7 linked regions of the Homo sapiens genome follow. The protein of the gene in region 1 interacts with the protein of each later gene in a pairwise test. Each region holds a gene or a part of one and is shown on either strand. Other genes may lie near its edges. The genes, in order: NFYC, STOX1, ZNF34, CSN2, PAX4, APOL4 and SMAP1.

The links.
Region 2: the proteins of NFYC (region 1) and STOX1 interact in binary tests that used the Homo sapiens proteins (3 or more experiments, as listed by UniProt).
Region 3: the proteins of NFYC (region 1) and ZNF34 interact in a two-hybrid assay, tested with the Homo sapiens proteins (one large-scale study listed by BioGRID).
Region 4: the proteins of NFYC (region 1) and CSN2 interact in a two-hybrid assay, tested with the Homo sapiens proteins (one large-scale study listed by BioGRID and IntAct).
Region 5: the proteins of NFYC (region 1) and PAX4 interact in a two-hybrid assay, tested with the Homo sapiens proteins (one large-scale study listed by BioGRID).
Region 6: the proteins of NFYC (region 1) and APOL4 interact in a two-hybrid assay, tested with the Homo sapiens proteins (one large-scale study listed by BioGRID).
Region 7: the proteins of NFYC (region 1) and SMAP1 interact in binary tests that used the Homo sapiens proteins (3 or more experiments, as listed by UniProt).

What each region holds. Positions count from the first base shown.
Region 1 is NC_000001.11:40,767,822-40,771,834, reverse strand, and holds the end of NFYC (nuclear transcription factor Y subunit gamma), read right to left. Parts: intron 2,480-4,013; coding exon 2,420-2,479; intron 1,439-2,419; coding exon of another isoform or gene 1,127-1,438; coding exon 1,007-1,126; 3' UTR 232-1,006; downstream 1-231. UniProt on the Homo sapiens protein: Component of the sequence-specific heterotrimeric transcription factor (NF-Y) which specifically recognizes a 5'-CCAAT-3' box motif found in the promoters of its target genes.
Region 2 is NC_000010.11:68,890,031-68,893,530, reverse strand, and holds the end of STOX1 (storkhead-box protein 1), read right to left. Parts: intron 943-3,500; coding exon 795-942; 3' UTR 471-794; downstream 1-470.
Region 3 is NC_000008.11:144,774,242-144,777,551, forward strand, and holds part of ZNF34 (zinc finger protein 34), read right to left. Parts: coding exon 3,217-3,310; intron 365-3,216; coding exon 1-364. UniProt on the Homo sapiens protein: May be involved in transcriptional regulation.
Region 4 is NC_000004.12:69,962,556-69,967,134, forward strand, and holds the start of CSN2 (beta-casein isoform 1 precursor), read right to left. Parts: upstream 3,174-4,579; 5' UTR 3,126-3,173; intron 1-3,125. UniProt on the Homo sapiens protein: Important role in determination of the surface properties of the casein micelles.
Region 5 is NC_000007.14:127,615,239-127,619,846, reverse strand, and holds the start of PAX4 (paired box protein Pax-4), read left to right. Parts: upstream 1-1,704; 5' UTR 1,705-1,885; intron 1,886-2,446; 5' UTR 2,447-2,572; intron 2,573-3,819; 5' UTR 3,820-3,918; coding exon 3,919-3,931; intron 3,932-4,315; coding exon 4,316-4,446; intron 4,447-4,608.
Region 6 is NC_000022.11:36,198,829-36,203,361, forward strand, and holds the start of APOL4 (apolipoprotein L4), read right to left. Parts: upstream 2,982-4,533; 5' UTR 2,907-2,981; coding exon 2,872-2,906; intron 781-2,871; coding exon of another isoform or gene 728-780; intron 549-727; coding exon 502-548; intron 1-501. UniProt on the Homo sapiens protein: May play a role in lipid exchange and transport throughout the body. May participate in reverse cholesterol transport from peripheral cells to the liver.
Region 7 is NC_000006.12:70,730,056-70,734,068, reverse strand, and holds part of SMAP1 (stromal membrane-associated protein 1), read right to left. Parts: intron 1,692-4,013; coding exon 1,558-1,691; intron 1-1,557. UniProt on the Homo sapiens protein: GTPase activating protein that acts on ARF6. Plays a role in clathrin-dependent endocytosis. May play a role in erythropoiesis.

The sequences.
Region 1 (4,013 bases):
AGCAGTGATCACACCACTGCACTCCAGCCTGGGCAACAGAGCCAGAAAAAAAAAGATCGGCTAAGGACCTCAGTTTGAATTAGGTACACAGCATTAAGTTCCCTTAGCTTTGAACATCTCCTTCTCACAAGGGTGGCCCTCTCTCCCAGACACACAAACTGAGGGCAAATGAACCTTTCCAAGCAAAGTGGCCCCATGAATGCCCCCAGACACAGAAACCCAGACTCTAAATTATCTAAAATGAGATTTATTGCATTTCATGCAGCTTGAAGTCCATGCAAAGGAGACTAGCACAGTTTTTAATGCATTTAAAAAATAAAAGGGAGGTGGGCAGCAAACACACAAAGTCCTAGTTTCCTGGGTCCCTGGGAGAAAAGAGTGTGGCAATGAATCCACCCACTCTCCACAGGGAATAAATCTGTCTCTTAAATGCAAAGAATGTTTCCATGGCCTCTGGATGCAAATACACAGAGCTCTGGGGTCAGAGCAAGGGATGGGGAGAGGACCACGAGTGAAAAAGCAGCTACACACATTCACCTAATTCCATCTGAGGGCAGAACAACGTGGCAAGTCTTGGGGGTAGCAGCTGTTCCCAGAGTCAAGAAATACCGTACACCCCTGGGGAGATTTGCTCCTAAAAAGAAGTGGCAGTAACAAACAAAAAAAAAAGAAAAACAAAAGGAGAAATATTTCTTCAACCACACTCTTCAAGAAAATGCCATAAATATGTTATTTAATATTTTAATTTCATAGCATTGGACACACACTCAACATATTGAAATATTGATTCCTTAGAGAAAAAAATGGAAAAAAAGGAAACAAAAAATATTGCATCTTTCTGCTGGAGAATCTCGGCCCCCAGGCATGGGGTGTAGTGCACCAGTGTCCTAGCCTGCAGGAGGCGCTGAGGTCGGCCGGGTCCTCTGGGGAGGAAGGCTGTGCCCATTGCCTGGGGCTGTATGGCAAAAATTGTGTTGGGTGTCCTTGGCCTTGCCAGCTCAGGCCCTCAGTCGCCGGTCACCTGGGGGGCCTGCCCGTCGGAGGGCTGGTTGGCTGACTGGATGAACATGGGCTGGGCGAGGTCCTGGCCCGCAGGCATGGTGACTTGCTGGATCTGGTAGAGCTGCTGCGAGGGGTGGAGAGGAGAGAGTGAGGTCATCCCTGGGAGAGGGGCATGCAGCTCCCTATGGGTCTCGAGCTGGTTGGGGGTCCCAGATACCTCAACCACCACCCACTGCAAGGCGTCAGAAGGAGGAGGGGAAGTGGAGCTCTGCTGGGGTTGGGAGCAGCAGACACAGGAGGCACCAGCCCGGTGTGAGGGGGGGTGTGTGGTGGGCAGGGAAGAGGTGCAGGGAGTTGAATTTCCTGTGGCTTTCACTTCTCTGGGCTCTGCCTCTCCCGTTAGCTCAGAGACTCGAGCTTGCTGCACGCTGTTCCTCTGTGGCAAACACAAGCAATTCGAACCACTGTACCAGCAGCTTGGAAGTCAGCATTTCCCCAACTCTTGGTAATCTACACTGGCAGGGGCAGTAGGATTACCCCCTCCTCTCCTTCTTTTCTCAGAATATCTGGCTCAGGTTGAAACTAAACTGAATTTGAATTTTCTCCATGGACCCTGCTAAGGAGGTGGCCTGGTATTAAACACTTAACTATAGCCAAGACGCTCCAGGGGTGGAGAAGATACTCACACAGCCACTTAGGAAGGTCAGGGCTAATTGACTACTTGGTTTCCCAGGCGCTCCCCAAAGAAGCCAAAAGCCAAGCCCTCATGGGAGCCCTGGCATGTAAGCCTAGCATGTGGTGCTGGCAGAAGCCAGAGGTGGGTCCTGATGCCAGCTCTTCTCCCTTTTGAGCAGCAGAGGGCACAAGTTTGGGCATGTCATCCTATCATGTCCTCAGTGGTCTCTGGGACTGTACTGTGAGGGGAAAGCAGAGGGAAAAGGGAAGATTCTCTCCTCGCATGGACTGAAAATGACTGAATTTCAGGCACCCAGAGAGCTCAAGAGGTCACGTGTTCTCTGCGTCTCAACAGTCCATGCTATTAAAACAGCATCATGGCTTAGAGGGGAAAAAAATACAGTTCTAGAGAGGGAAACAGGAAACCTGCTCTCTAGTCCTGGCTCTGCAATGAACATCTAGGGGAGCATGGACAAGGCACTTCCCATCTCCAGGGTTCAGTTTACTCATCTGTAAAATGGCAATTTGGGCTACATGTCTAAGATTATTTTAGTTCCCACTAAGTCTATAAAACTAAAGGATAGGTGCCCTGATTTAAATACCGTACTTGTTTTAACAATTTCTGTCCACTCACTGTTAGTAGAGGACAGGACAGTTGCCCTAACCATCCAAACCCAGATACTACCTGCTACCCTGCCCCGCAAATCCTCACCCTCTGCCCAGCCCAGGTTGGGTACCCTACCTGTCCATCTGTGAACTGGCTGAACTGCTGCTGTCCTTGCTGGACCTCTGTCTGTGTAATCTGTAAGAATCAAGATGGTAGAGTTGGTATGTCAGCTGCAGGGTCTGATCCACCAGCCCACCACCCAAAAGAGGGTCATAAAGATCAAATGAGACAATGCATATAAAGTGCCCAGCAGGTGCTCAATGGGTAGTAAGCAAGCAAGCACCCCTCCTAATCTAGCACTGATGGCTACGTCAAGAGTTGGCAGCACAAAGTGACATCGAGAATCCTGGAGCACATAATAGATAGTTCCCACACCCATCTCTCTAATGAATGCCTACTCCCTCAACCACCCACTCATCTCAAACTCTGAGGCTCAAACAGAACACATGGACCCTAGGTGCTATGGTTTGGGGTAGAAGTCCTAAGAGTCAGTCTTTCAGCCAGTGAAGGCGGACTGCAAAGTGTCAGACAAAGTGGTAAGTGGCCTCTTTCATTCTTGGAAGGTGGGCTCCAAACCAAACCCGTATCACCCAGATCATCTGACTGGAATATGAAACACCCTGGCGAGCAAGTGGCCTTGGTCCCAGCAGTCCTCATGGCAAACCTATGAAGTACTTTTTCCGAGAGAGGCACTGTGCAGCCCTCTGGGCCAAAGGAGGGGAGGAGAAAAGGGGAGGGACCGGGAGTGGAACAAAGACAACATTTATCACAAGTACTTAAAATCTTATGTGTGGACTGTGAATGGATTTTAGATAAATGTACTGACATGTAGAACTGCATATATAATGACAACTGCTGGGAGCAGCTCGGTAAACTAGAAAGAAGACTGCGGTGTGCATGCACATGTGTTCCTATGGAACATTTGGCCAGCAGTGTCCTCTGTGTACCATTTCCTGGAATCATCACAGCCAGCCTGCAAGACAAGGACTGTCCTCTCAAATGTCCTCACCATGGCCAAAAACAACCCCTGCAGGCCTACCCATGAGGCTATGAGGAACAAGAAAGGGAACAGGTATGACAGGCTTCATGACTATTTTTTACTATTGTTCCTTATTTTGGTCCTTTTCCTTCCAACAGCCTATAAGATGCCTGAGGGCAGGAGCCCATACAAAGTTAGTATTCCAGAAATGTTGCAGAATAAACAAGTGAGCCTGAGACAAATGGAAAATATTCCACATAGATAAGAAGGTTAACTGCTCTGTGGCCAGCAGGATTGCCATTCATATTAGCTGAGATTTCATTTACCTTTACATTTTATTTACATATTATTCATTCAGCTTCATTCAACAAACATTTACTGAGCACCTACTAAGTATTAGGTTGTCATAATTACAACCTGTTGTTACAAAGATTTTCATTGCCTTCAGCTACCACTTTCTTGCTTCTCCCCAGCCTCTCCCATTTTTTGGCTTTAGTTCTGTTCCCAAAACGGACTTTTTTTAATTTTTATTTTTTGAGACAGAGTCTCACTCTGTCGCCCAGGCTGGAGTGCAGTGGCACAATCTCAGCTCACTGCAACCTCCACCTCCTGGGTTCAAGTGATTCTTGTGTCTCAGCCTCCCAAGTAGCTGGGATGACAGGCATGCACCACCACGCCCAGCTAATTTTG
Region 2 (3,500 bases), on another chromosome or scaffold:
CAGGAGAATGGCATGAACCTGGGAGGCAGAGGTTGCAGTGAGCCGAGATTGTGCGACTGCACTCCAGCCTGGGCAACAGAGCAAGACTCCATCTCAAAGAAGGCCTGAAATGTAGGGAGGAACCAGAGGAACAGTAGTACAGCCAGATGCCTCTTGCCACAGGAATTTTCGACATTGTCAGTCACATTGGGAACCATTTGTTCATGTCCAAGCTGGTCAAAGAGAAGCCCCTGGGCAGCAATGATTAAAGGAATTCTTGTTGCAGAGTAGCCAACACATTTATGTAAACTCTTTCTTGGTAATGATAAAGACCTAGGGTTGCATAGATATCTTGCAGCAGACACTGTTTTCTTGCAACAGACACTGCTTCAACACACACTGTTTTCTGATTTTGTGTTGAAATCTGGTGAGATCCACTTAACTTAGAACTCAATATTAGTGTAGGTTAAAAAAAAATTCACTACAGGAAGTAAATTGGCATTCTATATATTTGAGAAACTAATGTATAAAAATTCAAGATAATTACAATTGGAAGGGGACCAATAATTCCACTTTTTAATCGAAAATAATCTATATACTCCCAATAAACTCACAGTAAAATAAGCTTCAAAAAGCCTTAAGACACCAAAAGAGGAAAAAAAGCCAGTAATTAGAACAAAATGTGTAATGTGGTTAATAGTATAGATATGCTTGCCTTTAGACAATTCTTATATACTCAATTCTTACATGATTGAAAGATTCTGTAATAATGCTCTACCTTTTTATAAAGAAAAAAGTAGGTTTCCAAAAGAAAATTAAACGTTTATGACTGGAGTTAGCGGTAGTAAGGAATTAGATGTGAGTGGTTGACTGCTCTTTGTGCCTTCGACATTTTGCAGAAAATTCTGTCTTCTTTTTAGTCCATCCAAAATGACTGAATTATTAGATCCCAGACTCTGTGTCCTAAAGATATTAAAAATAACAGAATTATTGGCTTCGAAGGGAACTTGAATTTCTAACCAAGGCATTATACTTCCATTTGCTACTTTGAAGTAGTACATTTACTAATACAAAGGTACACTTATCAAATAAGTTAACCTTTAAAAATCCGAAGTGCTCTTTACATTTTAAAGGCTTCACAATAGCATCTCAATTATTTGACAGCTGCCTTCACAGAAGTTTATATTTTCTGAAAAACATCTCTTCTCAGATCTAGTATCAAGTATGTTCTAGTCAGAAACAGTAAGTTCCCCGAAAAACTTCCATATATCTGAAGTGGCCAATATCTTCCTGTGAAATTTATTACTTTTATGAGAAATCATATGGAAGAGAAAAGCAAATTATTATATTTTTAATATTACAATGTTCTTTTCTAGAAGGAACAAGCTATATTAGCCCATTATCTAACACATATGCCTTGCTTCAGCTAACTCACAATACTGTTTGGTAGGCTCTGTAATCCCAGCACTTCAGGAGGCCAAGACAGGCAGATCACTTGAGGCCAGGAGTTTGAGACTAGCCTGGACAACATGGTGAAACCCTGTCTCTACTAAAAATACAAAAATTAGCCAGGCATGCTGGTGCACACCTGTAATCTCAGCTACTCATGAGACTGAGGCATGAGAATCTCTTGAACCTATGAGGCAGAGGTTGCAGTGAGCCAAGATCGCACCCACTACACTCCAGCCTCAGCAACAGAGTGAGACTCTGTCACACACACAAAAAAAGTATTTTTGCTTTTTTTTTTTTTGAAACAGAGTCTCACTCTGTTGCCCAGGCTGGAGTGCAATGGTGCAGTCTTGGCCCACTGCAACCTCCGCCTTCCGGGTTCAAGTGATTCTCCTGCCTCAGCCTCCTGAGTAGCTGGGATTACAGGCGCGTGCCACCACGCCTGGCTAATTTTTGTATTTTTAGTACAGACGGGGTTTCACCATGTTGGTCAGGCTGGTCTTGAACTGCTGACCTCGTGATCCACCCGCTCCAGCCTCCCAAAGTGCTAGGATTACAGGCGTGAGCCACTGCGTCCAGCCTATTTTTGCTTTTCGACATTCCCTTTTCCCACTTTGCTACTCTCCATCAACTGTCCATTACATTAAAATATATCTCAAACATATTTCGTCTAATAAGTCTTTCTCTAAACAGCCCATCACTCAATTCCATCACTCTTTGACTGTTAAAGTCTCATGCTTTGTTCTTAAGTTCAACTTGCCTATGTTTATTGTTTGTCTCCCCAACTAAATTGTATACTTCCTGTAAGTAGAAACAATGTCTTGTTCATCTCTATCCCCCTAATCCTTATAACCATCATGGCACACAGTTGATGTTCAAATGTTACTTTCCTTTCCCTTTCCTCTAAATGCCTGTCAATTATAGCTAGCCTTTCAGGAAAGCATATTGCTTAAAAATAAGCAATCCTTAAGAAATTAAATTTCTCAAAATTTTGCAAATCAAAATTCCTAGTCACCTATCAAGGAGTAATGTCTCTCATCTGTTTTTGTTTTGTTTTTGCCACAGAGAAAGAAAAGGAACCCATGGCTTTTTGGTTTACACCACCATTGTTCACATTTGAAGACATGTTTTGATTATCTTAAATACTTAATAGCTGGGCATGGGGGCTCACACCTGTAATCCCAGCACTTTGGGAGGCTAAGGCAGGTAGATCACTTGAGGTCAGGAGTTTGAGACCAGCCTGGCCAACATGGTGAAAACCTCACCTCTACTAAAAATACAAAAATTAGCTGGGCGTGGTGGCGTGTGCCTGTAATCCCAGCTACTCAGGAGGCTGAGGCAGGAGAATCAATTGAACCCGGGAGGCAGAGGTTGCAGTGAGCTGAGATTGCGCTACTGCACTGCAGCCTGGGTGACAGAGCGAGACTCCATCTCAAAAAAAAAAAAAAAAAAAGAAAAGGTCTTGCACCCCCAATAAAGAAGTAATGATACGTTTTTAAAATGTAGATTTCTAGGAATATATCCTAAGAAAAAAACTCAGAAATGCCCACAAACATTTTTATGTAAAAATAACTCACTGCAGATTGATTTGTTAATAGCAAAAAATTGGGAATGATCTAAATGTCAAAGAAAGGAAAATAGGCTGGGCACAGTGGCTCATGCCTACAACCCTAGCACTTTGAGAGACCAAGATGGGAGAACTGTTTGAGCCCAGGAGTTTGAGACCAGCCTGGACAACATAGTGAGACCTCATTCTTAACAAAATAATAATAAGCAGCAGCAGCTGGGTGTGGTGGTGCAAGCCTGTGGTCCCAGCTACACAGGAGGCTGATTTGCTTGAGACCAGGAGGCCAAGGCTATAGTGAGCCCTGACTGAACCACTGTACTCTATCCTGGGCAACAGTGTGAGACCTTGTCTCTTAAAAAAAAAAAGGAAAATAATAGTTACATATATATATAGTCCACATAACAGAATGCTAAACAGCCATTAAAAAGAACAAGCTTGTGGCTCACGCCTGTAATCCCAGCCAAGGTGGGTGGATCACTTGAGACCAGGGAGGCCAAGGTGGGCA
Region 3 (3,310 bases), on another chromosome or scaffold:
AAGTTTGCACTGAAGATTTCCCCAGAGTTACGAACTGTATTTGTTTTTTTTGACCTGTGTACACGCTTATGGTTGTTGAGATATGATCTCTGTTCAAAACTTTGCTCACATATATCACATTTGTGAGGTCTCTGATCAGGAACAGGTCTTGACAGCAACCTGAGGTTTCCCCCAGACTCCCTGCTGCTCTCCCCGTTGGTCAGTGTGACTGCCCTGGGGCCTCTCTGCTCCACTAGCTTTTCCAGGCTCCCCTCTGACTTACTGATGTGGTCACAGGCTTCTACTGGCTCAGATCCCTGGGGATCTTCCTCACCAAATGTCTCCTGTGAAGTCAACTCCTTGTACTCAGTTCTGGTCCCAAGAGCTGAAACAAAAAACAGAACATCTAAGGGTCACCTGCTCTGACTCTGGAAGGTAGGCATGAGATGCTGCTGGCCACCTGTGGGGAACCAATTTGATCATCTCCAAAGTCCCAACAGCCTTGCAAAGATAAGAGCCTGGAGCTCAGAGGCTTATGCAGCTCACCTGGGGCCACAGTCATACAGCCCTTCAAACATTCACTCCTTCCTTCCTTGATTTGACACTCACACAACAAACCTCTCCTGGGTGGCCACTCCCCAAGAATGGAGAGTGACAAGTACCCAAGTGGGGTCCTGCCACATGGCCGCTCAGAGACTGATACCAGCAGCCACAGTCAGGATTGATTAGTCCTGGCCCCTACTTGCCAGCTGAGTCACCTGAGGCAACAACTCACCTACCTTTCTGAGCCTTGGTTTCTCCATCTGTGACCACATGGCACTCTCATGAGAACAAAACAGATTAATACAACAGACTGACCATGAAGCACTCAGCCCAGTGCCCAGCACAGTGAGTTCCAGGTGCAAGCACCTCATGACTGCCACTTTCATTACTGCTCTCTTCCTAGTCCTAAGGGGTCTATCCTTCCACCCCTTGCCTGGCTCTGCACTGCACATGAACAGGTGCTGAACACCAATATCTGCCAAGATGTGCAGCAGACGGTGCTCACACACTACTACAGGAGCCTATGCTGGAGCTGCTGCTTTGGAGGACGGCTTGGCAACCTTATCTAAAGCTGATCTATGAAAATGCTGACTCAGTGACTCTGCTCCCAGGTACACACGCGCCAGAAATGTATTCCGGGCGCCAGAGAGAGACATGCACAAGAGTGTCCACAGCAGTTCCTGTACAACCCCAAACCTGGACAACTGAATGTCCTCCACAAGTAGAAGGGAACATAAGTTGTGGTGTGTTCATACAATAGAACAATGGCAACCAAACAGACCACACTGCTACTCCATGAAACACAAGCAGCTCTCACAGTGTTCAGCAAAAGATGCCCTGTGTGAGTCTACACAGAAAAATCCAAAGGAGGAAGCAGCCTCTTGTGACAGGAGTCAGAAAGAAGACCCCTGTGGGGAGCAGTGGGAAATGGCAGAGGAGAGCCAGGGAGCTCCTGGGGAGCGGAAACAGTCTGTATTTTAATCTGAAGGATGATTTTTCATAAAAATTCACTGAGTTATAAACTTAGGGTTTGTCCTATTTCTATAGATATTTACATTCAAATAAGCAAATTTACAAAATAAGAAGTCCTTTGAGCCAGCAGTTCCTTCCTCAGACACCATCAGACACATGCAAAAAGGTGACCATCAGAGCTATCCAATCTTTTGGCCTGCACTTGCACTGAAGACATGACTGAGACTCATGCGCACAGAAATGGAAACACATTCCGTGTCTGCACAGCAGAACACACTATCATTTCTGTTAAGAAGCAGTGTCAGCCAGGCACAGTGGCTGTAATCCCAGCACTTTGGGAGGCCAAGGCAGGCGGATCACAAGGTCAGGAGCTTGAGACCAGCCTGGCCAATACGGTGTAACCCCGTCTCTATTAAAAATACAAAAATTAGCCAGGCATGGTGGCGTGCACCTGTAGTCCCAGCTACTGGGGAGGCTGAGGCAAAAGAATTGCTTGAACCTGGGAGGCAGAGGTTGCAGTGAGCCGAGATCACACCACTGCCCTCCAGCCTGGGCAACAGAGCAAGACTCTGTCTCAAAAAAAAAAAAAAAGAATGGCTCACACCTATAATCCCAGTACTTTGGGAGGCCAAGGTGGGAGGATCGCTTGAGCCCAGGGGTTTGAGACCAGCCTGGTCAACACAGTGAAACCCTGTCTCTACTAAAAATACAAAAATTAGCCAGGCATGGCGGCAGGCACCTGTAGTCCCAGCTACTCAGGAGGCTGAGGCAGAATCGCTTGAAACCAGGAGGTGGAGGTTGCAGTGAACTAAGATTGCGCCACTGCACTCCAGCCTGGGTGACAGAGCGAGACTCTGTCTCAAAAAATAAAAAAGCAACAGCATCTGAGCCAGGTGCAGTGGCAGTGGCTCACACTTTAACTCCAGAACTTTGGAAGGCCAAGGCGAGAGGATCGCTTGAGCCTAGGAGTTCGAGACAAGCCTGGGCAACACAGTGAAACCTCGTCTCTGTAAAAAAATCAAAAAATTAGTGTGAGTGACACATGACATGCCTGTGGTCCCAGCTACTCGGGAGGCTGAGATGGGAGGATCGCTTAAGTGCAGAAGGTCAAGGCTGCAGTGAGCCATGATCATACCACTGCACTCCAGCCTGGGTGATAGAGGGCGACCCTGTCTCAAAAAAAAAAAAAAAAAAAAGCAGTGTCAGTACATAACAGTGGAAAGGCCAGTGCTAGAAAAGGAATAGCAGAAATATACTACAACACAACTATGTCTGGGTAGTGAGATTCAGGGTGATGTGTAGTCTCTCACTTTTCCGCAGTGTATTAATTTAGAAGAGAGGGGAATTAAATGATAGCTCCATCATTAGGCCCTCATTATCTGGCATCAGCTCTGGAGCGCAGGGTTCTGTGGGGTTCCGCAGACCCTAACAGCACCCCTGTTCTGCACCTACTCACTCCCCTCTACACGGGACCTTGCCTGGAATGTCCATTCCTATTTTCCACAGAAATGCTGCCCTGGAGAGATTCTGCTCAATAATCTCCCCACCAAGGTGCCCAGACTGAGAGGGGTCACCTGGGCTTCAGCAAAGGCCACTGTCAGGCCTCCTGTGCTAGCCCCGATGAATCTGGCCCACAAACTCCTGATTCATTAATCAGACACCCTGGACCCCAATAAAGGCTCGTTCGGTGACTTGAGTTGGGGAGCAGATCCCCTCACGCACCTGGGCTGTTGACTCTCAGGTGCTCTTTCCCAGAGGTGCCCTGAACATCCAGGACCCAGGGCTCATCCCCTCGCTCCAACTGCGAGATCACTCC
Region 4 (4,579 bases), on another chromosome or scaffold:
CTTCCTTACACCTTATACAAAAATTAATTCAAGGTGGATTAAAGACTTACATGTCAGACCTAAAACCATAAAAACCCTAGAAGAAAACCTAGGCAATACCATTCAGGACATAGGCATGGGCAAGGACTTCATGTGTAAAAGACCAAAAGCAATGGCAACAAAAGCCAAAATTGACAAATGGGATCTAATTAAACTAAAGAACTTCTGCACAGCAAAAGAAACTACCATCAGAGTGAACAGGCAACCTGCAGAATGAGAGAAAATTTTTGCAATCTACTCATCTGACAAAGGGCTAATATCCAGAATCTACAATGAACTCCAACAAATTTACAAGAAAAAAACAAACAACCCCATCAAAAAGTGGGCAAAGGATATGAACAAACACTTCTCAAAAGAAGACATTTATACAGCCAAAAATCACATGAAAAAATGCTCATCATCACTGGCCATCAGAGAAATGCAAATCAAAACCACAATGAGATACCATCTCACACCAGTTAGAATGGCGATCATTAAAAAGTCAGGAAACAACAGGTGCTGGAGAGGATGTGGAGAAATAGGAACACTTTTACACTGTTGGTGGGACTGTAAACTAGTTCAACCATTGTGGAAGTCAGTGTGGCGATTCCTCAGGGATCTAGAGCTAGGAATACCATTTGACCTAGCCATCCCATTACTGGGTATATACCCAAAGGATTATAAATCATGCTGCTATAAAGACACATACACATGTATGTTTATTGCGGCACTATTCACAATAGCAAAGACTTGGAACCAACCCAAATGTCCAACAATGATAGACTGGATTAAGAAAATGTGGCACATATACACCATGGAATACTATGCAGCCATAAAAAATGATGAGTTCATGTCCTTTGTAGGGACATGGATGAAGCTGGAAACCATCATTCTCAGCAAACTATCGCAAGGACAAAAAAACCAAACACCACATGTTCTCACTCATAGGTGGGAATTGAACAATGGGAACACACGGACACAGGAAGGGGAACATCACACACCGGGGCTGTTGTGGGGTGGGGGGAGTGGGGAGGGATAGCATTAGGAGATATACCTAATGTTAAATGACGTGTTAATGGGTGCAGCACACCAACATGGCACATGTATACATATGTAACAAACCTGCACTTTGTGCACATGTACCCTAAAACTTAAAGTATAATAATAATAATTTCAAAAGACAAATAAAATTTAAAAAAAGATTTATTCATTAACTTAAAAATATTTCTTTAGAATCTGTTCTTGCCAGACACTGTCTAGGGACCAGGACCGCAGCAATGAACAAAATATTACAGTCCTGATATTACTCCCTCATGGAGCCTCAGTTCTACTGGAAGAGACTGATCAAGAAAATGTGTACAAAAAAGTCACATTTTATTTTTACCTTTTTTCTTTTCACTAAACGGTTACCATGACTATTTTAGTTTATTTCTCCTCATTTCCAATAAGACTGAGGTTTTCATTTTAACACTTTCCTTATTTGTGTCACTATCCAGAGACTTTATTGGACTATTGAGTTTGTTTCTTCTCCGTTTATATTCATCTTCCCCACATAGCTAATAATGTCTGTTCTCCTTTATGCCACATGACTTTAGATATTGTACACTAGGCTTCTTCTCTTCTCTTTATTGAAATGTACACACGATTCTCTTGATGATCCGCCAAGGGGTCAGAGCCTCTTGCCCACTGCTAAGCTTGGGACTACCTCTTCTTGTGAAATATATGTTAATATTTTTGACCAAAATATACTAAATCATCTCCTTGTTATGTGTTCTTACATTTTTTTGTAATTTATTTCAAAATAATGTTTGTGCCACAATATTACTCACCACTCAAATCTTCATTCTCAGATATTGAAACTCAATTTTTGAACTAAATTTTTGAACTAAAATACTTCATCAAAAAAGTCTTTAATTTATTTGAGAGATGTTCTTTTCAATATTTGAAGGTTGAACATAATTCTATTACAGAAAACAAATATTTTTTCTAGATTTTTTATGAATGTTAATTAAGTTTTTATTAATTTTACTTTGCCTAAGACCACTATAAGTTCCCAAATTTTTATGTCAGGGTTCAGAAACAGAATATAACACTCTATTATATATAATTACACATAGGGAAGATCCCACAGCATTTTCTATATTTTATAAGTAATATAAACTTTACTAGTTTTATTACTAATCTACTAATATATATAATAATTTTATATACGAATGTATAATTACAATGCTAATTTATATACTAATATACTAATATATACTAATACTAATTATACTAGTTTTTATACTCATTTCTATACTATAAATATACTACATACTGGTATACTTTTATATACTAATTTTTAAGCCAGAGCTTCATTATCAACTGGTACACTCTAAGCTACTTTTTCTTTTATATCATCTATTATCTTTGTTTATGGTTTCCAAGTCTTTTCTACCCCATTAAGAATTTTCTTACAAAGTAAACCACATTGTTTCTTTTTTACTTAATTCTGTATTTCTGTCTCATTTTAATATTGTTTTGAAATATTACAAACTAGATAATAAACTGGGAAGTTTGAGGCTCTAGACAAGTTTGATGAGTAAACTCTTCTAAAAACATTGTTTATAAACATTTAAAGTAGTAAATGCCCCCATACCATTCCCTCCATTTCTCAACTCAGTATGCTACTGCTGTAAACTACCTGCTGGACAAAGCTTTTCCAGTAATTATTTATCTACCCATACTATAATTGAAGTATAATTCTTTTTATAACTGTGATATGCTAAATCAAATTGGAAGATTAATTAAAAAAATGAATCTCCTTTTAATATTAACTATGAACTAGCCTCATACTATATATATATATATATATATATATATATATATATATGCATAAAATTAGCTATTATATTTTCTTAAACTCATGAAGGCTATATGTCATTACCAAATTCTTCTGGGCACTTCTATCTTTTTTAGCCTAAGTGTTAAAAATAATCTCAGTACTACCTTAAATACTTTTATTTCAAACACTATATTTTAAGTAACTACGTTCCTTCTATAGCTCAAGCTACTTTGAAATACATGGTTAGGAGAAGATACAACAAATTTGTATCTAAAATTCTTACCGTTTTTCCAAGATTGAAGAGAAGTGAAGGTAGTGCTGGATGGATGATGGTCCATCAGCTTCTGTGACTGTTTATATACTATATTTAATGACACACTAATTTTGTGATTTGAAATAAGATCAATAGCGAGCTTTAATTCCAAGAAGTCCACATGATTAGAAAATGATTTCTGCCTATTACATATCCCCAGAAATTCTGGGCATCATTATAACAAGGGAACAATTCACAAGTTGATAAAAGAAACCTGTCCAGGAAATGCAATTATTCAATAACAAAAGACAATGACTGGAGGACAGTGATACTCTGGCCCTGTCCCCAAGTTATTATGGACATAATTAGGTCTCTTTAGGGCCTAGTGGGGCCTTGAGATTTCAGTTGTGGGAAAATTGTATGTGAACGCTAGATATACACAGGGCTTCACAAAGGCCACAGTTTCATGTGAACCTAAGCAGTTGTTAGTGCTTTATGCTGAAATGAAGAAACTGACAAGATAACAAGTCCATGATGGTAGCTTAGTTATGTGAGGCAAACTGTTTCTCCCAGGGCCACTTGATTTGGAAAAAAAAATAATTTAGTTAAAACAAATATTTTGTACACAAGATAAATAAACTTTCCTCTGTAATGGAATAACTTGAAGAGGGAATCTGGGTGGCTGGTATAGGCAAAATCTTCAGTAAATCTGTAATAAAAATTTTGCAAAGTATCACGGAGTTTTATTTACCTTTTAATATTGATTATCTCTTTTCAGGTCAAGCATAATTATGATAATATTAATGATGGGTTTTTTTGCTTAGTTCTAACCCTTTGCCAAGCACTAAGCAAAGATATTATCTTGTATAATCTGCACAAGAACATCATGAGGTAGCTCTCCTCTTCATATTTAGGTTGAGAAAACAGAGATGCCAAAAGGTTAAGTAACTTGCTCAAAACCATATTGTTAATGGCAAAGATACCAGTTGGACTCAGATCTGTCTGACTACATGTGATTCTGTTTGATCACATGTGAGTCTCAGAGCCCATGTTTTAACCTTCTGATAATTTTTTATAAAATTTATCTATCAATGTAGCATTTGGTTGAAATATGTACAATTTAATTATGCCTGAATTGGAAAAGTAGGGCCTCTGTGCTGTGTGTGGCAGGGGAGCTTGCCATTAAGGAACTGCTCTTTTAGTTGAGCCTTAGAGAATGAGTAGAATTTTGCGAGATGATTAAATGGGGATAGATATTTTGGCTGAAGAAAACACAGGAACTGAAAGAGCAACATACCAGTTTGAGGATATTCAGAGGGCATACATTGCAAGTTACAATTGCAGAGGTTTGATAGAATCAGATCATGGATGACTGTGAATGTCAGGCATGCACTGTGACATAATTCAGTGGAAGCAAATATATTAGAGATTTGAAAGAAAAATGGATTGTAAAATTTCTTGGATTTCATGACTTTATGACAACA
Region 5 (4,608 bases), on another chromosome or scaffold:
CTGCCAGGGCCCTTTACCACTTTTCCCTCCCCCATCACCTCTGGGTCGAAAGCCTCTGTTTGTTCAGACCCAAGAGCGCGTCATAAAGGCGGAGGGAGAGGGTAGTTTATGGGGTAAATCGCTGCCACCACCATCTGCTAGGGCTTGTCCCTGCTCCCCCTGATACCCCTATCTCCACCCTCATGCAGCTGTCTATAGGAATAGCTGGTCAGGACATAAGCCTTGAGCCCCTAGACGCAGGGGCAGATCTAGCGGGGAGGGATGAGGCAGGAATGGGGGACTAGGAGCAGGGCTACCACAGGCCTTACTGGGGACCTCCTCCCACCCAAGCATGGCTAAGTAGAGTGACCAGCAGTCCCCAGCTGCCCCGGGGATGGAATGGGCTGTAAGGACACTTGGGCAAATGCTATCCTGCCCGAGGTCCTGAAATCACCCTCTGCAGTCTCCCCTGTACCCCAAGACCAGTCTGAGGATGCTGGAGGAGGGTGGAAGAGGAAGAGAGTATGTATCAGGGTAAAGTGGAAAACTCACTTATGTGATATTTGGCCTTTGAGAGCAAGAGTTCCCAACCCTAGGATCAAGCTGAATGCACAACAACCACTTTCACCCCCAAAACCTCAAAACATTTACCAATGACATACGTCTTCCATTCTCTGATTTCTGGGACTAGTCTTATTGCCCTACACCCTGCTTACTTCCAGTCTAACTTTTGCAATGGTTTCACAGACTCTGAGGTGTGGAATGGACCCAAAGACCATCTGCCCAAGACCCTGATGACTGGCAACAAAATTTACATGCACTAGAGGCTGTGTTTCACTTTCAGCATCCCACTCCACAGGCACCACCTGCCCAGCTACTGATACCTCTGACCTCGCCAATGACCCAGATAACCTGTGGTGTCTTTTGTGGAAACAGCAGTGCCATTACTAACTTAGAGTCTAAAAGCATCAAATCCCTAACAGAATGGAGCCTGCTAACATCTAAAGATGGAAGAAGGAAAATCCTGCTGCAAGCCTCCTTATAAACACCCACATGCATCTCTGACTATCCTGAGGCTCATTTCCACCACCACTACCATTGTCAGTGTTCTGAAGTCCAGGATCCTTCCATTTCCAGGCAAGAATTCACCCTTGGTGTCACCTCAGTCAAGGAGTCAATTGGAGAATTGGTTAGGACACTCTCTGGGGACAGCTGGTGCTAGGTGACACACACTCTTCACACTCTTCTCCATTCACTCTCATTATCTCAGAGTGCTAGGAGCCAACTCAGTCAGTATTTAGGCAACAGTCTGTATACTCATTTATCTTTTATAGCAACACACACGACTCAGGAGTTGACCCCAAAGCCCATGTATGTGCATTCTGGCTGGGAAGCTGTGTTGGTGGTTCGGGAAGGCATCTTTTTGCTTCTGTGTATTCAAAGCCTTAAGAACACAACCTGAAGTTCCCCATCTTCCATGCTCAGCATGCCCTTCAGGAGTACTGGTGCTTGTGTGGGTACACTTTTGCCTGTCTGAGAATGGCTCTGTCCCTGCTTCCGGGTGGTAGGTGGACACAAAGTGGGCTCTGAGGATTCCCCATGGAAGGACACAGTGGGTCATTGGCTGTGGTTTGCCCTGCCTCAGGGCTGGTGTCAGTCAGCCCATGCACACCTCCCTCCTCCTCTCTCCTCTGCTCATGGCCTGTGACATCACTGGCTACTCCCAGAAGGCTGCCCTCTGCTCTTGAGCACGGGCTCTCTATAGCTCTGGACCCCCTGGCAGGACTGAAGCAGGAGCAGAGTGGAGGCTGTTACCAAGACCAGATCATCACCACCCCTGGAGCCTGCAGGGGTCTCAGAAGCTGAGACCTCCCACTGAAGCTCCCACCTCATTTCCTCCACACAGGTAGCTCACCTGCAGGCTCATTGTCTGCCCTGCCTCTCATGCTGTCTCCATGCCTCTGTGTGGCCAAACCCAACTTCTCTCCCACTCTGCCTTTGCAGCTACAACCCTCCTGCCCCTTCCACCCCCTTTCCTGTTTTTCCATCTTGCAAGCACCAGTTATTTTTTCAGACATGTTAATATGAATGTTGGGAATGTGTGTTGTGGCTATTGGGAATGGGGTTTCTGTTTGTGAGTTGGGGCATAATGATTTAGGTTTGGAGATTATTTAGGTTTGGATACTGAACCTGCATCCCTACTGCTCTTTTGAATTCTGGTCACTTAGGAGAACTGAGTCCCATCAAGGATTTAGGGTTTGGCTGATATTTTGAGCTCCTTCACCCTGTCTTGGCACAGCCCTTTACAGTCCCTGCTTGATTCTCCTCTCTCCATTGTTTTTGTGGCAATTACACAAACATGAAACAGGGGTGGGAGCAGAGAAAGAGAGCCCAGGATTAGGAGCCAGAAATTGTAGCTTCTGATGAGGAACTGGCTTCTAAACCTTGAATTTTACTCTCTGGACAGCCCCTGACTTGTGGCAATGCCAATCTGTGCCTCAGTTTTCTCTTTGGAAAACCTCTGCCTTCTTTCCCGACTTTTTGGAAAGATGAGAATTTGAAGGGGTCTGTGCCTCTACCTACCTAGAAACAAGTGAGTAAAAGCCAATTTAGCGACTGAACTTAATAAGTAGACTCTGGATTCCAAACTCTTTGTAATTCTTTGTTTCACTGGTGCTAGTCTCTTTTCTCCAGTTGCTCTGTAATGTGTTGGAGAGCAAAGACTTTACCCTTTTCTGTTTACTGCCTTCATCCTGAACAACCAGCAATGTGCTCATGCTTAATATCTTATTCAGCATACAACTGCAGATGAATTAACTAAGCCCAGATGGCACGCTTATTATAAGAAAGTTCTGTGCATAAGCTGTTCCTTGGGGTGATCTCCAGCACTACCAGGGTTCCAGGCATGAAAGGAGGCATCTTCAACTCCCATTGATTACTAATGAAAGTAGAAGAGGTATGGTGGCCTGTGGGACCTGTGTCCCTTGCTGCTCAGAGACTCGCTTGGGCTCATGACGGTTTCTATGTTGCTCAGCGGACAGTCTTCTCCTGCTTCTCATTCCCTTCAATATGCCTTTGATAAATGTTAGTTGAATGAATGAGTGTCTGATACCAGAAACATCGTCTCTGAAATTGAAGCTTCACTGTGAGATCTAGAACTCTTCAGAGAATGAACAGAATGAACAATCTCAGCAGGTTAGAGATGCTAAGAGATGCGTCTCCTAGGAGAAGCCGGCTCTTCAGGCGTGTTCATCTCTATGCCCAGTGTGTAGGACCAGAGCCTCAATGCCTGGTGGGTTAGAGCTGAGTCCCAGTTTCCCTAGAGCTTCCTGGAGAGTATAAAAAAACAGGAGCAAGCCTTTCTGAAGTGCAGCATTTGGGTGGCAGTTTGGAGAGCCCAACCGAGGACTGCCTAATAGTGAAGGTGGACCCCTGAACTTGAGGACCCCAGAATCTCTGGCTCGGGTGTGTCTTCCAGGGCTGAGAAGGCTTAGGAGCAGCTGGAGACAACAGCTGTCCATTTGGAAAGGGGAAAGCTTGAGCATTTGAAAGCATTATCCCTTTCTACCTCCCCAAACTTTTCTAATGAATGTGTAGGAAAGGAGAACCCTCTCAATCCTCCCAGCCCCTTATCAGGACTTCAAGAAAGATCCAGTCCTCAGCCAACCTGCAGTGTTTTAGTTTTTATCACACAAAGGTTTAAATAAAAGGAATTAGAATTTTCTGATTTTAGCCAACCCACTGGCAAATTTTAGGAACCTGACCCTCTATCACAAAACACTACCTCCCAGGACCATTTCAAGCAAAAGACCTCACCCAAATAACCCCCCATTATTGCAGAGCCAGCCCCCAAGCTGGAAAAGGAGCTCCTAGAAGGAACTTCCCTTCCCAGCCTTCCCAGCTGGAGTCTCATCCTTCTGAGGAGGGTCAGCCTGGAGCATGCATCAGGACGGTGAGGAGCCTGGGGGAAGTGGGAAGACAGGGAGGACAACAGAGACAGGGGAAGACCTCAGGGCTTTGCTTCCATCAACTGTTTCATCTGCTATTGGCCAATGTTCTGGGGAAGCTTTTTCCAGTCCCTCCCTTCCTGCCCTGTCCTGCTTCCCTTAGATCAGGAGAGTTGGCGGGTATGGGCAAGGAACAAAGACTCACCCGTGAGCCAGCTCTCAAAGAAAGCAGCTTGCGTTGACAGCCTGGGGGCAGCAAGGATGCAGTCTCCCAGGAGAGGATGCACTCGGTGGTGGGAAGCCAGGCTGGAGGGGCCTGAGTGACCCTCTCCACAGGCGGGCAGGGCAGTGGGAGAGGTGGTGTGTGGATACCTCTGTCTCACGCCCAGGGATCAGCAGCATGAACCAGCTTGGGGGGCTCTTTGTGAATGGCCGGCCCCTGCCTCTGGATACCCGGCAGCAGATTGTGCGGCTAGCAGTCAGTGGAATGCGGCCCTGTGACATCTCACGGATCCTTAAGGTAATGGGCCAGCACCTTTACCCAGTGATGGGGACAGGAAGCAGGGAGAAAGGGCTCCTCTGAAGGCAAGAGCCTGGGGCTGTTGCAGGCTCTGAGGGCTTCTGGGACTTGGGTCACTTCCTGGGAGATCCTCTCGGAGGTTGAAAAGGGGAGCCTCAGGCC
Region 6 (4,533 bases), on another chromosome or scaffold:
CTACCCACAGGGCCACTCAGAGCAGAGGGGCTGGTGCAGGGCAAGAGCTGGAGGGAGGGGACCGGCCTCTGCTGGAAACACCCCAGGGTCAGCCAGGAGCAGAGAGGGAGGTGAGAGGTCAGGGCTGCTGGTCAACCTCCTCTCCCACCCCTCCGCTACTCCTGGCCAACCCTCAAAAGCCAACCCTGCTGTTTCCATTTCCCCAAGGCTGTCCTGCCCCACTTAAGTCATTTGCTAGGTGTCAGGGTAGGGAGGAAGTGGGCACCTGGGCCATGACCCGCTGAGGAGAGGTCAGGATGCAGATGCCCCCCAGAACCCTGGGTCAGGGGACTCCACGTGGCCTCTCTTGGGGCTTGGGGCAGCCTCATCAGCCACCTCCGTCTGGGTTCCGTTGGGGCTCACTCAGCCTTGAAGACACCACCCTCCATTCTAGCTGTGGGTAGGAACCAGCCAGGGAAGAGGAGGCGAGCCTACCAGCAGCCAGGTCTCTGAAAGGCTTACCTTGGAACTGTCCAGCCACTGTCCAGCCTGGATGGTTTTGCTGCACCCTTGAGGAAGAGAAAACAAATTGTGGGATTGAATGTGAGCCACCTATGGGCAAAGGGAGGCTTGAACAGCTGGGCCTCTGCAGATCCCTCTGAGGTGGCAGCAAATGCCAAGACCAACCTAACCCAGATTCTTTCTCTATCACCAAGTCCCCATCATCTGCTATTTACAGACACTCAACTCATTCCAGCTCCCTCTTCCCTCACTCTCACACCAAGGAAAAGTCCGCTTGTCCTGTTGGAGAATGAGGAGAAGATAATCAGAGGAGGGGCAGCCATCTGATCATTACAGAAACTACACAGTCTATACGCAGAAATAGAGATGGGAAGGAACGTTCTAACAATGACCGGAAACATGTGTGACAACTAATTGATGATAGCCAGTCTGTATTGAGTGTCTGTGATGTGCAGGGCTTCTTTTTTTATTTTTATTTTTATTTATTTATATTTTTTGAGACGGAGTCTCGCTCTGTCGTCCAGGTGGAGTGCAGTGGCGCGATCTCGGCTCACTGCAAGCGCCGCCTCCCAGGTTCACGCCATTCTCTTGCCTCAGCCTCTCGAGTAGCTGGGACTACAGGTGCCCGTCGCCACATTCGGCTAATTTTTTGTATTTTCAGTAGAGAAGGGGTTTCACCGTGTTAGCCAGGATGGTCTCGATCTCCTGACCTCATGATCAGCCCGTCTCGGCCTCCCAAAGTGCTGGGATTACAGGCGTGAGCGGTCGCGCCGGGCCTGTGATGTGCAGGGCTTCTGACATGTGTCTCATTCAATGATCACACACAGCCCGGGAGATGGGTACCACTTTCCCATTTGAACACAGAGGAATCCACAAAAGTTAGGGAACTTGCCAGTGTTTTCTATTGCTAGAGCCAGGACTTCTGCTTCAACCTCATGTCTTCAATGACTGTGCTCTACTCCCTTAAATATACAATATTGAGTCATGTATACACGCTCATGGTAAATGACTCCTCATTGCAAATCCATGTCTCACACTCCGTGCTCAACTTTTCGTCTTGGTGAATTCACTGGTGCTGCAGTGGACAGCCTGTGTCCCCCTTGCTTCTCTAAGATCCTTTGTCCCACAAAGACCTGGATCCTGCCAGATGCCGGCCTAGCCCCTGCTGTGGCTGCCGAGCCCTCCTGGCGCTGCCCTGTTCCCTCTGCTGTCCTCCCCTAGCTGATGGACCTTAGGGTGTTTCTAATTCTTCATGTAAATTATGCTACAAAGAACACCCTCCTTCACGTAAAACTGCCCACATTTGATTTTATTTCCTTAAGATATTTGTAGGAGTAGAATGACTAGGTCAGAGGGTATCAACATCTCAAAATGTTTTATACCTAGAGCCACACTACATGCAAATTGTACCAATTCACACTCAAACTAGCAGTATATGAAGATGCCCATTCTTTCAGTCTTACTGGCTCTCAGTAGTCTCTTTATCAGGACAAAAAATATATACACAACATGTAAATTTGAGAACTAAATATCTTGTTATCAATACCAATTAGTACAAACTTTAAGGCACGAAGGTAGCAGTTGAGATGTGAAGCACTGAACAAAGGAGAAGGAGGATTAATATTGTCATTTTTTAAAGATGGAAGTTAAGAAATACTGGGTACAACTGAGGGTATAAGAAAGTTGTAAGTAAATTGTTTACAGCTACAAAGTTGCTAATGGAAGACATAAAACTGGTGATAGAATGTTAGGAAAAGGTGGAGAGGAGAGATAGAGGGAGGGTACAAATAAGATGAAAATGACTAATAATGATACTATAAATAATAACAATACCATTTCAGGCCCATCCCAGTTAGGGGCGGCTCCAAGCATTACCATTGTTCTTTTCTCACCGTGTGTCTCTGCGCACTCCCTGGCACACCCACTTCCAGCAGCTGGTCTTTGTTTGCAGACTTTATTTTAACAGCTCAGTGGTTCCCGGGCCCCCTGATGGGGTTCCATCCTCCAGCTCTCATACTAAAGCCCCCTCCTCAAAAGCCACTCGCCTCCCTCTTTCCCTTTCCTGCCTTTGTCTCAGGGTTCAGACACACAGATGTCTGTCTTCTGGGGCCCCCATGCAACAAGGGTAAAAGGGGGACCCAGTCCTGGGCAGCATTCACCAGGGGAGTATGCAGAGGGGCGTCTGGGCGCTTCTTGCTGTAAGGGACAGGGGTGACAGGAGAGGGGCATCCCTTCGCCTTCTTCCTGCTTTGTTCACTGTGTGACCCCCTAGGCCAAGGCAACCATCTCAACACCATGAGCCAGTAGAACTGGGAGGACCAGGAGAGAGCAGAGGAGCAGGAGGGCAGAGAGCTGGGGCCTCGGACTCACCCGACGCTTGTGATGAGCTGCACCCAGGATCCCATCCTCCTTGGTCATTGTTGGCCTGGCTCAGACGCTGATCTGGGGCCTCTGCTGAATGTTGAGGCTGGATACTGACTGTTAGCCTCAACTAGGACACAGTGCGTCCCCTCTAGGCGAGTCTACCAGTTGGTCAATTCCGGGAAGTGATTTTGGTTCCTAGAAAAACCCACATGGCTCCTGGCCCAGCCCAAGCCCTGCCCAATTGTGCAGCCCAGACAGGGAGCCCTCCCTCCCACCTCAGGGCTCTGAGCCAAGCTCACCAGATGCAGACGACAAAGATTTTCAGCAAAGCAGCTCCCTCCATGTCGCTGCGGGGCCTCCTCCTTGGGCAGGAAAAGAGGGGTTGAGACAGTGTGCTCCTCCTGAGAAATCACCATTTTCATTTCATTTTTAATAAACCGTTTTGCTGTGTCACCCAGGCTGCAGGGCTTTGACGCCATCCTAGCTCATTGCTGCCTAGATCTGCTGGGCTCAAGTGATCTTCCTCCTTCAACCTTCTGAGTAGCTGGGACTACAGGTGCACGCTACCATGCTGGGCTAATTTGTTAATTTTTGATTTCATAGAGACAGCATCTCCTGTGTTTCTCAGGCTGTCTTGAACTCCTGGCCTCAAGTGATCTTCCCGCCTCTGCCTCCCACAGCACTGGGATTACAGGCTTCAGCTATAGTGCTTTCTATCTTGATGGGCATCTCTTTTTGGTGAAGAAAAATCAGGCCGGGAGCGGTGGCTCACGCCTGTAATCCCAGCACTTTGGGAGGCCGAGGCAGGCAGATCACAAGGTCAGGAGATGGAGACCATCCTGGCTAACATGGTGAAACCCCATCTCTACTAAAAATACAAAAATTAGCCGAGTGTAGTGGCGGGCGCCTGTAGTCCCAGCTACTCGGGAGGCTGAGGCAGGAGAATGGTGTGAACCCGGGAGGCGGAGCTTGCAGTGAGCAGAGATTGCGCCACTGCACTCCAGCCTGGGCAACAGAGCGAGACTCCATCTCAGAAAAAAGAAAAAAAAAAAAAGAAAAAGAAAAATAAGACCACGACTCAGATTTCACAGAAATTACCCCCCTGATTTCATGGACTTTTGGCAGCTCTATCAGGTTTCTGAGAGGGGAAAATCTTAGGCTGGGAGGGGAGGTGACTTGCCCAGAGTCGCACAGCTCTTGGAGAGCAGACGGGAAGCCAACATCTGCCCTTGTGACTCTGCTATTGAAGAAAAACGGGTGATTTTAGTAATCCAACAGTGTCCAGGTTTGATTCTGCTTCTACAAACACAGAGATCTAAGCTCTCACTCCTGTAGTTACACTCACAATTCCACAGGTGGCTTTTGAATCTCATGATTACAAAGCTGGCGTCATGCCACAGGCACCATTCTGCAATGCGACCTTCTCACTCCCCTGTCTCAGCCATGTTTCCTATTGCGGGATCTGGCCAGCAGCCCCCAGTGCAACGGGGCTCTCTCTTTGCTCCTAGGCGGATCGGCAGGTTGAGAAATAATAGACACACACAAGATAGTGAAAGCTGGGTCCAGGGGGGTCACCGCCTTCTGGTCAACAATGCACTGGATATACCAGCATTTATTATTCAGTTTAGTGAGGGCGGGGGTAGGTTAGTGAGGGATTTAGGGTCATTT
Region 7 (4,013 bases), on another chromosome or scaffold:
TACAATTTCAAATATTATTATTTAATAACTGTTTTTAAAATCCTTACATTGTAAAAAAAAAAAAATCCAATATATTGCCATGTACTTGTAACCTATGCCAAAGAAAACCAGTGAACTGCAGCCCTCTGATTACAAAATTCTACTCTAAGCTATACAGCTGCCCATCTCAAATAATTTGCTATTCATTTCCTCTCAACAACCTAATTGAGAAAAATATTTCTGAATAACTGAACTGTTGAAGGATCTCGTGTTTTATCCTTAGTTTGAAATAAGCCATTAAAAAAGCAGGATACTTCGGTCGTGAATGCTTTGTACCTCCATAACCCATTACAAACACCAAGTTATACTGTCAAGCTACACCTCACACGTTTCTTGAAAAAGAGTTACAACATCAGCTGGGCATGGTGGTGCATGCCTATAGTCACAGCTACTTGGAAGGCTGACATGGGAGAATCGCTTGAGTCCAAGAGTTTGAGACCAGCCTGGGCAACATAGCAAGACCCTGTCTCAAACAAACAAAAAAAGACTTACAACATCATGACATCTGTTACCATATTCTACAGAGATACTAAGAACACTGCCTTACAGGAAGTGTTTAAAAAGCTCTGCTTCTTTGATATAACTAGTATGTTTTCTCCTCAAGGATCTTGAAAGTACATAAAAGATTGCATTTCCCTTTATGCTCTAGCCAGCGAAAAGCTCAAAAACTAATTTAAGATGGAACCAAATAAATTATGCTTGACTTTATAGCCTGAAGATCTCCATTCTGTTTTTCTACCTTTACTTCACCCCATTCATGTAAACTATTGGGTTAAGATTCTGAGATGTATCACTGAGTCTCAACCACATATATTTATGTATTTAGCACTTCATAGTGACTTAAAAGTAATTTCAAAAGGGCATAAATAAGTGGTGTAACTTCACTGTGAATTACATAATAAGACCAGTAGAAGTACTCATTTTTACAATAGTGGCCAACCTTAAAGATAAAAAGTAAGATTTTGAGAATTTAAGACTGTCACATTGGGAAAATGGCAAACTTTTAAAACTACAAATCTACCTCTAGCAGAGTTAAACCACTCATAAGTAAGTTTAGGTTGGTCATAAGAACATTTGTTCACTGGGTTGTCTTACAACTTCTGGGCCTTGTCTGAAAACTAAGAACACCTCAGAACAGAAAGGAAATTACTCAAGTCCATTTTTAGGCTACAGGTGGTTTTTTATTTTATCTTTACCCAGGCTCCCTCCACTGAAAAAAAAATAAAACAAACTATGGAATTATACTGGCAAATTTTATCAACAAGAGAAATGATACTTTAAAAACACTTTAAAATCAACATTTTAGAAAGTATAGATTAAAAACTGACTTTACTATAGACACAAAATGAAATAAACATCTGTGAACTGAAAATTCAAATATTCCAATTTTATACGTGGCATATGCCATTTCAACATACAAAACTACTTTTCAATGTTAATCCTTAGATGCAAGAAGGGTTAAATATTTTTAAATCATTTTAAATATTTTAAATAATTTCTTGGTAACGTCATGTTTACCTGTATCTGTTCTGCTGTCCATTGGTCTAGGTTGACTGATTTGACCCTGGATATATGAACCCCAAGATTTCTATGAATTCCAGCACATCTGATGCAAATAAACACACCAATATTCCAGGAAGCCCATCGAGGACCTAATTTAGAAGAAGAAACCACAAAAAAAAGCAAATGTTAAAAACAAAAATAAACATAACAGCATATTAGAAGCATTCTCGGTTTTATATAATTATAATGGAAGCTTACAGAAGTCACATGCTCAAATTTTCAAATGGTACTGGCGGCAGTCTGCTAAGAAGACATGTGTCTTGGCAATCTTTAAGAACCTTATTGATTTTACTCATTTTGCTTTCCTAGAAACTTCCCCTCCACTCTAAGATTTTAAAACTAATTTATATAAACAGCTTCTTCACTTAGCATATTTGAATCAGGAATAGTAATAATACCCTACTGTAAAAATAATTTCTTTATTAAATGCATAAGATATGCACAAGATTAACAACAAATAAAAAATCAAAGACATTTCAAAAATTAAATGTAGAAATTAATAAGAAAAAGACAACCAGCCCAATGCGAAATAAGCAAAAAGATATGAATGAATAATTCACAGAAGAAATTTATGGCCAATAAGCATGAAAATATGCACAGTCTCACTGGTAATTAGTGAAAGTGCTCTTTAACTCTACAGTTACTTCCATTTTGCACCCAACATTCTGGAAAAAAAAATTTTTAACTACTAATTGTTGGCAAGAAGGGGAAACAAGGACTGCTTCAAAAAGCGTTGCATCAACATGGCTAAATCTCAAATATAACACTGACATTAAAAAAGGTCACAGATGAATATATACAGTGTGAAACCATTTACATAAATTGAAAAATATGTAAAATAATAGCATACTGCATATTAATTAAATGTATCTACAAATTTCGTGAAACTGAGGCAGGTAACTGGTGGTAAGGAAAGAGGATGTGATCAGGGAAAAGTTCACTGTGGGCTTGGAGAGCAATAGTAGCACTCAATTGCTAAGCTGTATGGCAAGAATATAAACTTTTGTTTCAGTAACATATAATACGCATATATGAACTGAGGTGTGCTACAAAATGTTAGTTCTTCAGTTCATGGTCAAAAAGTTCTGAAAAACACTGCCAAAAAACTCACATATGAATACAAGAATACAAGTCTTAGCTGTACAAGTCTTCATACCTTTGAATATATTCTTTCATAATAATTTTAAAAATTGCTTCAGATTTTTTCACATATTGCTTGTAAAATTAATAAAGTAAAAATGGAAAAATAAAAGCAATATCTGGAAAATATGCCAAATATTCAGAATCATATTACTAACAGACTTCTATAAATTAGTTGATTATGAAAAATGTATGTATATAGTAAGAGATATCAATAAAAATCAAGTAGCTGGACACAGTGGCTCATGCCTGTAATCCCAGCACTTTGGGAGGCCAAGGCAGGCGGATCACTTGAGGTCAGGAGTTTGAGAACAGCCTGGCCAACCTGGTGAAATCCGGTCTCTACTAAAAATACAAAAATTAGCCAGGCATGGTGGCAGGTGCCTGTAATACCAGCTCCTCAGGAGGCTGAGGCAAGAGAATCACTTGAACCTCAGAGGCAGAGATTGCAGTGAGTCGAGATCCCGCCACTGTACTCCAGCCTGGGTGACAGAGAGAGACTCTGTATCAAAAAATTAAAAATTAAAAATAAAGCTTTTTTTAAACATAGCCTTCTGTTTTAAGTACATGCTGTTTATCTAAAGGTGACACTGCTCTACACAACAACATTAAAGCTAGTAAGTACAATATAGTAAAATTAAAAATAATGCCCCCCCAAATTCCTTAATTACACAGGAGGAAGATTATGCACATGCAACTTATCCTCAAATATCCTGCTTTTAAATTTGAGAAATTACATCTATAAACTGGCAAACATACATCTGGGACATCTGTGACAACTCTAGATAGAGCTGCCTCCCCCAGTTACTTTCCACTCTGTCTCATCATTTCTAACACAACAATTTACAACGTTATCTATCTGTTTTGAAGCTTACACATTAAGGTAAATAGTTACAGAGCAATAGCTGGAGGGTTTAATTATTTTTAGCAAGTAAGTCTCAAACTAAGAAAGGTTAAACAGATATGCAGTGGGCCAGAAACAGTGGCTCACACCTATAATCCCTGCACTTGGGAAGCCAAGGTGAGAGGATAACTTGAGGCCAGGAGTTTTGAGACCAGCCTGGGTAACATAGTGAAACCACAGTGGTCTCTAATAAAAATTGAAAACTACACACCACACGTAGTGGTGAGTGCCTGCAGGTCTAACTACTTGGGAGGCTGAGGCAGAAGGATAGCTTGAGCCCAGGAGTTCAAAGGTCCTTTGAGCTATGGTGGTACCACCGCACTCTAGTCAGAAAAAAAAGGAGGGTCAGGGGGAGAAGGGAGAGAGA